2 separate regions of the Homo sapiens genome follow, and region 1 is linked to region 2. The links come from fine-mapping of genetic effects on gene expression. A gene starts in region 2. The other region holds a variant in brackets. All regions are shown on one strand. Distances are from middle to middle. Region 1 overlaps DHX34 (DExH-box helicase 34). Region 2 holds the start of BICRA (BRD4 interacting chromatin remodeling complex associated protein).

Region 1 (4,376 bases), 230 kb after region 2:
GCATGTGAGGCTTTATTCACAATCCGTGCTCCAGGCCCTCTGCACTGGGACAGGACCACAGGGCTAAGCCCAGGCTGGGGGTTCAGGCAAGAGTCCTGCCCCTAGTCCTGGGCTGGAGGGCAGGTCAGCTGCACGGAGGTGGGCAGGGCTCCTGGCCCAGCTCACACGTGCTGCTTCCGGTGGCGCAGCACCTCTGTGGGTGTAAAGAGGAAGTCCTTCCCGCAGGCCTCGCAGTGGTAGGGCCTCTGCAGGACAGATGTCTTCTGGAGGGTTTCGAGGGCAGCTTCCTCAGCCCCTAAGGGAGGAAAAGGAGGAGGCTGTGAGGGGCGTGTTCCAGTGCACAGGTCTACCTGCACCCAAATGCCAGGCACCTGTGGGGCTCAGGTTCTCTCCTGGCCTTTGGAGAACCCAGTTTTGCCTCCTCCAGGAAGCCCTCCCAGATTAATAAAAATACACAGGTCTGTCTTTACTCCGCATCCCTGCCAGTGAGAGAGACAGAGAGAAAGACACAAGGAGAGACATGGAGACTGAGAGGCAGACACAGCCAGCCGGGGATGGAGGCATGTGGCCCCAGTGCTATCTCCCCCACTGAACCCCAGTGTGTGGCATCCCTGGGTGACAACAGGGTGGAGGTGACCAAGGCAGAGATAGCTGCAGGACAGAGAAAAATAACAAGAGACATAGCCACAGAGAGACAGAAACAGAGACAAAGACAGCAACACAGAGACACCACAGGGGACAGGCAGACAGAAAGAGGTGGCGCTCCAGGCTCTCCCTGCCTTGGGCTCCTGATCTTCAGGACAAGGCCTGTGTGTGGCACCAGCCAGGGCCAGCGGGTGGAGGTCGTCAGTCCTCGAAGCTCTAGCAAGTGCTCACACGCACAGGAGACCATCATGGGATGGGCAGACGGCTGGGCAGAGGTGGCCGGGTCCCCACAGTCCTGTGCTTACCTGGGGGCCCATCCTGTGGGGCCTGGGGGCAGGTGTTCTCATGGGCGATGCGCTCCAGGGGCGTGAGGGGCGCATGCAGGCCACAGTGGGGGCAGGTCCAGAAGGTTCGGAGACAGTCGCTGTACAGGTCTGTGTCATTCTGTGGCAGGCCAGCTGTCAGGGCTGGGCCCCCGCCAAGTGCCACCCACCACCCAAGTGCCCCCCCGGGACCCTTCCCAGAAGCCCTCAGGGCCACGGGCCCCACTTGGGAACTATGTCCCTGGACTAAGGTGAAACGGGGTGGTGGGGTCTTCCTGAAATCCCACCTTCAGGGAAGGAGGGTTCATGCTTACCGTGAGGCAGTTGTAGGTGAGGAAGTCAGTGACTGCGTAGCCCCCCTTTGTGGGGTGGGGGGACAGGGTGGAGCTGCCAAAGAGGCCAGGAAGATGGGGGGTGGCTGGGATGGTCTGGGGTCCCACATACATGTTCTGGACTTCTAGCCCTGTGAGCCGCCGGAGGCTGTAAGGAATCTAAGGAAGGAGAGACAGGAAATGGAGAGAGACAGACTCAGGGAGATGCCGCCAAAGCACCTGGATCCAGCTGTGCCTGAAGCCCTCCCTCGGGCTTTGCAGTTACGGGAGCCAAGTGCTTACACCAATCACAATTTGGCTGCAGACACACATGACCAGGGGTCTGTCTAGAATATACCTGATAACCCACCCCCATCTAAATTGCCCTCCCCAGGCCCCTCTTCTGCCCCTGTCACTGGTGGGACCCCATTCAGACCTTGAGTCTAACCTTCAAGTCTGGCCACCTCCCCCCTCCTCCTCCTAGCATGTCAGCCTTGGTCCCCTCTCCATGGCTCACTGGGTTCCTGCTCCTTTGTCCTCAAGCCCTTCTACTCCAGGAAGTCAGCCTGGATTGTACCCTTCTCCCCACCCCACCCACATGAAGTAGAACCACGAGCAATTTCCACTCCCCACCTAAGAGTCAGGGGCTGGTTTCAAGTCTGCTCAGTTCAGTTCTTCCCATCCACAAGCAGACGTCTACGGCTTCCCTCTCACACCCTGCCTGTCCTTTACTGTTAGCAAGAGGGGATCAGCCACGCTTGCAGAAGGTGCTTAGTAAACAAGGCAGCAGTGGGTAGTGTGGCCTCTGGAACCAGGCTCCTGGGATCAAATCCTAGCTCCACCCAGACCAGTGGAGTGACCTTGTGTAAGTGACTGAACCTCTGTGGCCTGAAAACCCCCAAATGTGCCCATGTGGAGTGAATGGGAAGCCAGGCCTTCCCGAGGCTCAAGCCCAGTGACGGATGCCCCTTCTGGCCATAGGGAGGCACGGGCACCCTGGTGGAGGGTACCTTGGATGCCGTGAATTGCAGGAGTTCCTTGCTCAGGGTGGCCACCTCCTTGGGGCTGACTGGCGTATCCTCCTCCTCCTCCTCCAGCTGCTGCTGGGCCTGGTGCGCCAGCTGCCGGTCCAGGGCACTTTCCCAGCGGGCACGGA[G/A]CCGCAGGGAAGCCGCCAGGAGTCGGATGGCACTTTCACTGTCTGCTAGCTGCAGCTCCAGCCAGCCATCGGCCACCAGGCGGGAGCAGTCACCATTGGTGTCCAAAGACCGGCTAAAAAGCAGGAGGGACTGAAAGAGAGGGGGCAGAAGACAGGGAGTAGGTGGGAGGGGCAGGGCGCTATTGGAGACAGGCCCTGCCCGGCTGGGCTCCTGCCCACCCACCAGCCCTGTCTATGTGAGGCATCCACCTACCCGCCATCTACCCGCTGTACCAGGCACCCCTTCGGGTGCTGGGGATACGGCATGAACAAGGCAGCCGCTGAGTCAGGGAAGGGGGCTGGGGTGGCGGGGCGGCAGATGGGAGCGTGCTGGGAGAGAGACAGCTGCATTCTCAGGCAGGGTGGCAGAGGGACAGCAGGCACTCAGACACACACGACGTGCAGGGAGAGCCCAGACCCTGAGCACACGCTCCTCTGTGAGGACGGAAGTCAGCGCTGTAATTACCAGTGCTGTGGCTCATAAGATGTTGGGGAAAATCCTCAGGGCTGGGGCCAGGGCAGAGGAAAGGGCAGGACTGGCCATGCGTGGATGGTTTGGGGACCGGGGATGGTACAGGAGGGCTCCATATACTGTTCTGCCTGCTTATGTGAATGTGAAGTTTCTCCATCTTCTTCTTCTTATTATTATTATTATTAATTTATTTATTTATTTGAGATGAGTCTCACTCTGTTGCCCAGGCTGGAATGCAATGGCGCAATCTTGGCTCACTGCAACCTCCACCTCCCAGGTTCAAGCGATTTTCCTGCCTCAGCCTCCCTAGTAGCTGGGATTACAGGCACGCGCCACCCACCCGGCTAATTTTTGTATTTTTAGTAGAGATGGGGTTTCACCACATTGGCTAGGCTGGTCCCAAACTCCTGGCCTCAACTGATCCACACACCTCGGCCTCCCAAAGTGCCGGGATTATAGGCGTGAGCCACCATGCCCGGCTTATTATTTTTTGAGACAGTGTCTCACTCTGTCACCCAGGCTGGAGTGCAGTGTCAACAATCACAGCTCACTGCAGCCTCAATCTCCCAGGCTCAAGCAATCCTCCTGCCTCAGCCTCCCGAGTAGCTGGGATTACAGGCACACAACACCACGCCCAGCTAACTTTTTAAAATTTTTTGTAGAGATAGATAGAGTCTCCCTATGTTGCCCAGGCTGCCTTTGAACTCCTGGGCTCAAACAATCCTCCCACCTCAGCCTCCCAAGGTGCTGGGATTCCAGGTGTGAGCTGGCCAGATTCTCTCAACAAGCAGTCCAGTGCAGGGAGAGAGCGCCTCAGGTAGCAGGTCTGTTCCGCTTCCTGCGGCCCGGCTGGTCGCCAATCCTCTGTCCCTCGGCCTGCGTGCTGCCTGCTTTCCCATGCTCACATGAGCACCTGGCATCACCCTTTTGGTTTGCCGTCTGCCTCTACCATCCTATCTGAGCCCCATGAGGGTGGGGAGTTTGGTTGACATTGACCACAGCTGCACCCCCGGCCCCAGAACACTGAACACTAACAGTGCCTGGCCCACCAGACGGGCTCGAGGGAGGTGTGGACACACACAGAAGTGACTGAGCTGAGCTGGCTTTTGTGGTGTTGGTGGCAATCGCAGTGTCAACAAAACCCTGAGGCTCTAGGAGCCTGCAGGTTCCTCTCTCCCCTCCACGTTCCCTGGGACCCAAGCCGGGGAGTGCTGGTAGTGAGCCAGGAGGCAGGAGGGGGCAGTGTGACCCAGGAGCTCTGGCTTGGCCACCTGCTCGGTGTGTGACTTAGGTGACGTATCCCCGCCCCTGCCTGAGCTTCAGTCCCCTCTATAAAGGGAGACCCACAGGGCTGCGTGAGGACTCCGAGGCCAGGCCTAGGATCACAAAGACGCTCGAGGAGCACTAGGGGCAGGGCAGTGGCTGCCATG
Region 2 (4,376 bases):
AAAATGCCAAAGGGTGGGACAGAAGAAGGGCTTAACAGTTTTGAGCCAAGCTGGAAAAACTCCAGGAGGTTACAAATTGGGGCTCTGTGTGACCCAGGGCTGTGTGACCCTGGGCAAGCTTCTTAACCTCTCTGAGCCTCCATGAACCTGTCTGGAAAACGGGAATGTCTGTCCCGTCTCTATTTCCTCCTTGGACTGTGGCCAGCGTGTAATGTACTTAGCAGCAGCGGAATAAAGCTCCCTAGTTTGATATTGTTATTAATATTTCCATCTTGAGCGGGGAGCTATGAGGGAAGGCAAGGGAGGTCAACATGTCCCAAAAGTCCTACCAGTGCATGGGAAGGGGGTGCTTCCTGAGTTGTCTTCCCATTTTCTCATGACCCAGGGCAGGTCAGAGTTGACAATACCCCCCACACCCACCCCAGGTGCTGGGAGAGGTTAAAAGCACAGAGAGCTTATCATGAATCTCAGGCCTTGATGCCTTGGATGTTTCTAGTTTCCCTTTCAAGTGCCCTCCGTAAAGAGGTGTAAGAGAAAGGCACCCCTAGATCTGTATTATACTATGGGGTGGGTAGGTAGGTGTGTGTGTGGGGGGGGGGTGACAAAAGGGGACGATGGTCAGGACATGGGCCTGGGCACAGACTGCAGCCCACCAGGATGGGGACACCAGAGAGCTAGGACCTGTCACCTGGGCCTCCCCGGGAGAGCTGACACCGCGGCCTCTGACCCCACCTCCCGGGAAGTTCAGCTGCTCAGAACCACAAAGCAAAACAAAGGGGCGCGGAGAGGAAGAAGCCGCAGTGCCTCCCAATCACCGCCGGCGCCCGAGCCCGAGCCTAGCTCTCCCGCGGCTCCTTGCCCGGTCCTCCCGGCTGGCCGCGCACCAAGGCCCAAGCAGCCCCTGGTCCCTCGTCTCCCCGCGGCCGCCCGTGACAGGAGTCGGGGAAGCAGACGAGGGGCAGCCAGGGATGGGAAAACCAGATGGCTCCATCCCTCCTCCCTCCTCCTCCATCCCTCCCTCCGGGTGCCCGCGGCCTGGCTGCCCTCCGCAGGGGCCCGGGGAGGCCGCAGGCCCAGCTCGTCCGGGCTCACCCCGGGGAAAGGGCTGCCTTTGTCTAAAGGTCACCACCCGAGCGCGGTGCCCCGGCCGGGCCTGGTGCCTCCCGTTCCCAGGCCGAGGGGTAGGAGATGGGGGGCCGCCCCGAACCTCGGGAAGTGACAGGAGGCGCTCACCCCCCCCACCCCCGTAACGGCCCCCTCCGGGATGAGCCTCAGCTGGGGGTGGGGGAGGGGGTCACCTCCCTCTATTGCCGGGGGCTGGGGGTCAAGTCAACTCCTTTCATTGTTTAGGGGCGGTGCGAAGGGGGGAGCCCCGGTGGCCTCCTTCCCCATCCATCCCTCCCCAGCTTTCCAGGGCCCCCCACTGTCCGCGACACCCACGGGAGGGATTTGGGGAGGGGGCGCAGGGGCCGAGCGAGGCGGGGAGATGCAGGCTCTCCGCCTCCGGCCGGGAGATCACCGCCCGCTGCCCGGTGGCCTTCGCCTTCCCCGAAAGGCGGGGAGCGGGGCGAGGGGAGGGGGCCGGGACGGGGAGGGGGTCTCCGCGCCCCTCCCCCCGTGGAACGTTAGGTCTCCTCTCTCCGCCGCTCCATTGTATCCCCGGCAGCCGGCGGGAGGGCCGGGGAGGCACTGGGCGCCGGGTCTGGGCAGGGAAGCCGGTTGGGGGGGGGTCCCCATAGGATCGGGGCGGCGGCGGTGGTGGAAGAGACGCGGGGCTGGGGGTGCCGGTGGCGGTGGGCGCCGAGCAGGAAAAAAAAAAAAAAAAAAAAAAGGAGGCAGCGGGCGCTGCGCCCCGGCTGGGGGGCTGAGTGTGAGAGTGTCGCGGGGGTGGGTTCGGCCCCGGCTCCGGCTCCCCCCACACACACCCTCGCCGCCAACCCCCACTCCCCCCTCGCTTTTGCGCCCTGTCACAGCCCCGACTCGCAGGTAGAGAGAGTTAAGAGATTTAAAGAGAAATTGCTACATTGTGAGAAACTCACCCTGATGTTTGAGCAGCCGTCGGCGCGGGGTCTCCGAGACGGCCCCGCACGGGCTGCAAAGGGAGGACCCAGAAGGGGCCGGCCGGCCGGGCCGGTCAGCGCACTGCCTGATCGCATGGCGGCCGCTCGGCAGCCGCTGCCGGGCCCCCGCCGCCGCCCCGCGCCCAGGCCCGCGCGCCCCGGGCCCGCGCCCGTTCCGGGGAGCGCCCCTCGGGTATGCAAAAAAAAAAAAAATTTTTTTTAATTAAATGCAAACGGAAAAAAAAAAAAAAAAACCTCTCAGGTTTTGTGTTCCGCCCCCCACCCCCTTCCTCCTCCTCCTCCTCCTCCTCTTCCCTCCGCCCTCGCCGGAGGAGGGGCTTCAGGAATCCCCGCCCCGCGTCCGGGCGGACCAGCCCCGGCCCCGCCAGGCCGAGCGGCGGGACCCGGAGCCAATGGGAGGCTGCGGACGTCCGGGGACTGGGCCCTCCGCGCCGGCGCCGCCCCCGCCCCCAGCCCCAGTCCCGGGGGTTCAGGGGCGCGCCTGCTCGAGCTCGGGTGTAGTTTGTCGACTGCCTCGAGCCCTGATCCGGATGCTGGGGCGCGGGGGAGCTGAAGGGATCCGCGCTCCCAGACCGCCGGTCCGGCTGGGGAGGGGGCGCCGTGCGTCCTGGGCGCGTCCCCTGAGGCGGAGGACGGTCGTCCGGCGGGAGGACGCGTCCAGGGGGAGCGCCGCAGGTCCGAAAAGATAGCGGGAGTCGAGGATGAAGGAAATGGAGGGGATGGAGGGGAGTTCCCCCCGGAGGTGGGACCGCGCCGGAGCCCAGAGTTGGAGCCTGACAGGGTGGAAGGCGGCGGGGACTTCGGGGTGACAGGCCGGGACCCCAGGCGTGGCTCGATCACTCACCCTAGCTGGTCTCCGTCGAGCCACGGCGGCGCCGGGGAGGCGGGTCGGGCCTGCCTCGGAGCCTGTCCCCGGCCGCTCTGGCCGCGCTGATGGGATTCCCAGAAGCCCCAGGACGCCGCGGTGGTGTCGGGTCCGTTTCCGCCCCACCAGGCCGTAAACGCCCTGCTGGCGGGACACGGATTCACGCGTTGCCCTTAGCGAGCGCTTGGTGAGCGCCCACTGTGTGCGCTGCGCAGTGCTGGGGGCCCAGTGGGGACACAGAGCCCCCGGACCTGCCCTCCCGATGCTTGCAGCCCAGGGAGATTTATACTTTGTTTTAGTCCCTTCTGCCTCCCCAGTGCCCTAGAAAAGCTCGTGCACACAGTAGGTGAATGCGGGTTGAATAAATGAGTAATCGAGACAGATTGTGATTTTGTTGTTGTTGTGTTATATTTTGTTTTGTTTTGAGACGGAGTTTCGCTCTTTCGCCCAGGCTGGAGTGCAGTGGCACGATCTAGGCTCACCGCAACCTCCGTCCCCTGGGTTCAAGCTATTCTCGGCCTCCCAAAGTGCCCGGCCTCTGTTTTTTTAAGCCTTAACATGTGTTCTAGTATCTTGGCGGTACTACCCATAATATTTACTTCAACGTATTTTTTTTTTTTATAATTTATCGGCCAGGCGCAGTGGCTCACACCTGTAATCCCAACACTTTGGGAGGCCGAGGAGGGTAGATCACCTGAGGTCAGGAGTTCGAGACCAGCCTGGCCAACATGGTGAAACCCCTTCTCTACTAATAATACAAAACTTAGCTGGGTGTGGTGGTGCACGCCTGTAATCCCAGCTGCTTGGGAGGCTGAGGCAGGAGAATCGCTTGAATCCGGAAGGCAGAGGTTGCAGTGAGCCGAGATCACACCATTGCACTCCAGCCTGGGCGACAAGAGGGAAACTCTGTCTCAAAAATAGTAATAATAATAATAATTTATCCAGCCTGGGCAACATAGCGAGACCCTGTCCAAACAAAAATTAGCCCAGCATGGTGGTGTGTGCTTGTACTCCCAGCTACTTGGGAGGCTGAGGCAGGAGGATCGCTTGAGTCCAGGAAGTCGAGGTTGTAGTTCCCCATAGTCATGCCACTGCACTCCAGTCTGGGAGACAGCAAGACCCTGTCTCAAAAAAAAAAAGAAGAAGAAGAAATTAATTTTGAGAGACCACAGAGGGTAAGGGCCCTGACTGAAACCAGTCAGCCCCTGGTTCATATCCTGCCTTTGCCACTTTCTTGCTGTGTGACAGTGGACAAATTACCTCACCTCTGTGTGTCCTCATCTTTAACATGCTGATAATAATAGGCCTCATTTCATAGGGTCATGAGGAAGAATGAGCTAGGGAGAGCTGCACCTGAGAGGAAGTGCCATATAAATGCTGGCCGTTATCATTAGTAAGTAAACAGGAAGTTATCAGTTCCACAAGTGAAT

The links. PIP is the estimated chance that this variant, and not a neighbour inherited with it, causes the effect.
Region 1: its variant is the best candidate, but not a certain one, in a credible set for the expression of BICRA in whole blood (INTERVAL, PIP 0.68).

Annotation. Positions count from the first base shown.
Region 1 is chr19:47,377,899-47,382,274 of GRCh38, reverse strand. It overlaps DHX34 (DExH-box helicase 34), which reads right to left. Exons shown (of 17, transcript NM_014681.6): 14 at 2,290-2,565; 15 at 1,283-1,459; 16 at 951-1,089; 17 at 1-295. The coding sequence ends at 162. Among named protein-coding and RNA genes, the nearest start is that of DHX34, 31 kb to the right of the region's middle. The variant G/A (reference allele first, on the strand shown) is at 2,436.
Region 2 is chr19:47,606,832-47,611,207 of GRCh38, reverse strand. BICRA (BRD4 interacting chromatin remodeling complex associated protein) reads right to left here and starts at 2,074. Exons shown (of 15, transcript NM_001394372.1): 1 at 2,040-2,074. It overlaps BICRA-AS2 (BICRA antisense RNA 2), which reads left to right and starts at 2,579. Exons shown (of 1, transcript NR_186352.1): 1 at 2,579-3,335. RefSeq lists silencers at 794-1,053, 1,184-1,233, 1,890-1,959, 2,030-2,079, 2,140-2,189 and 4 more.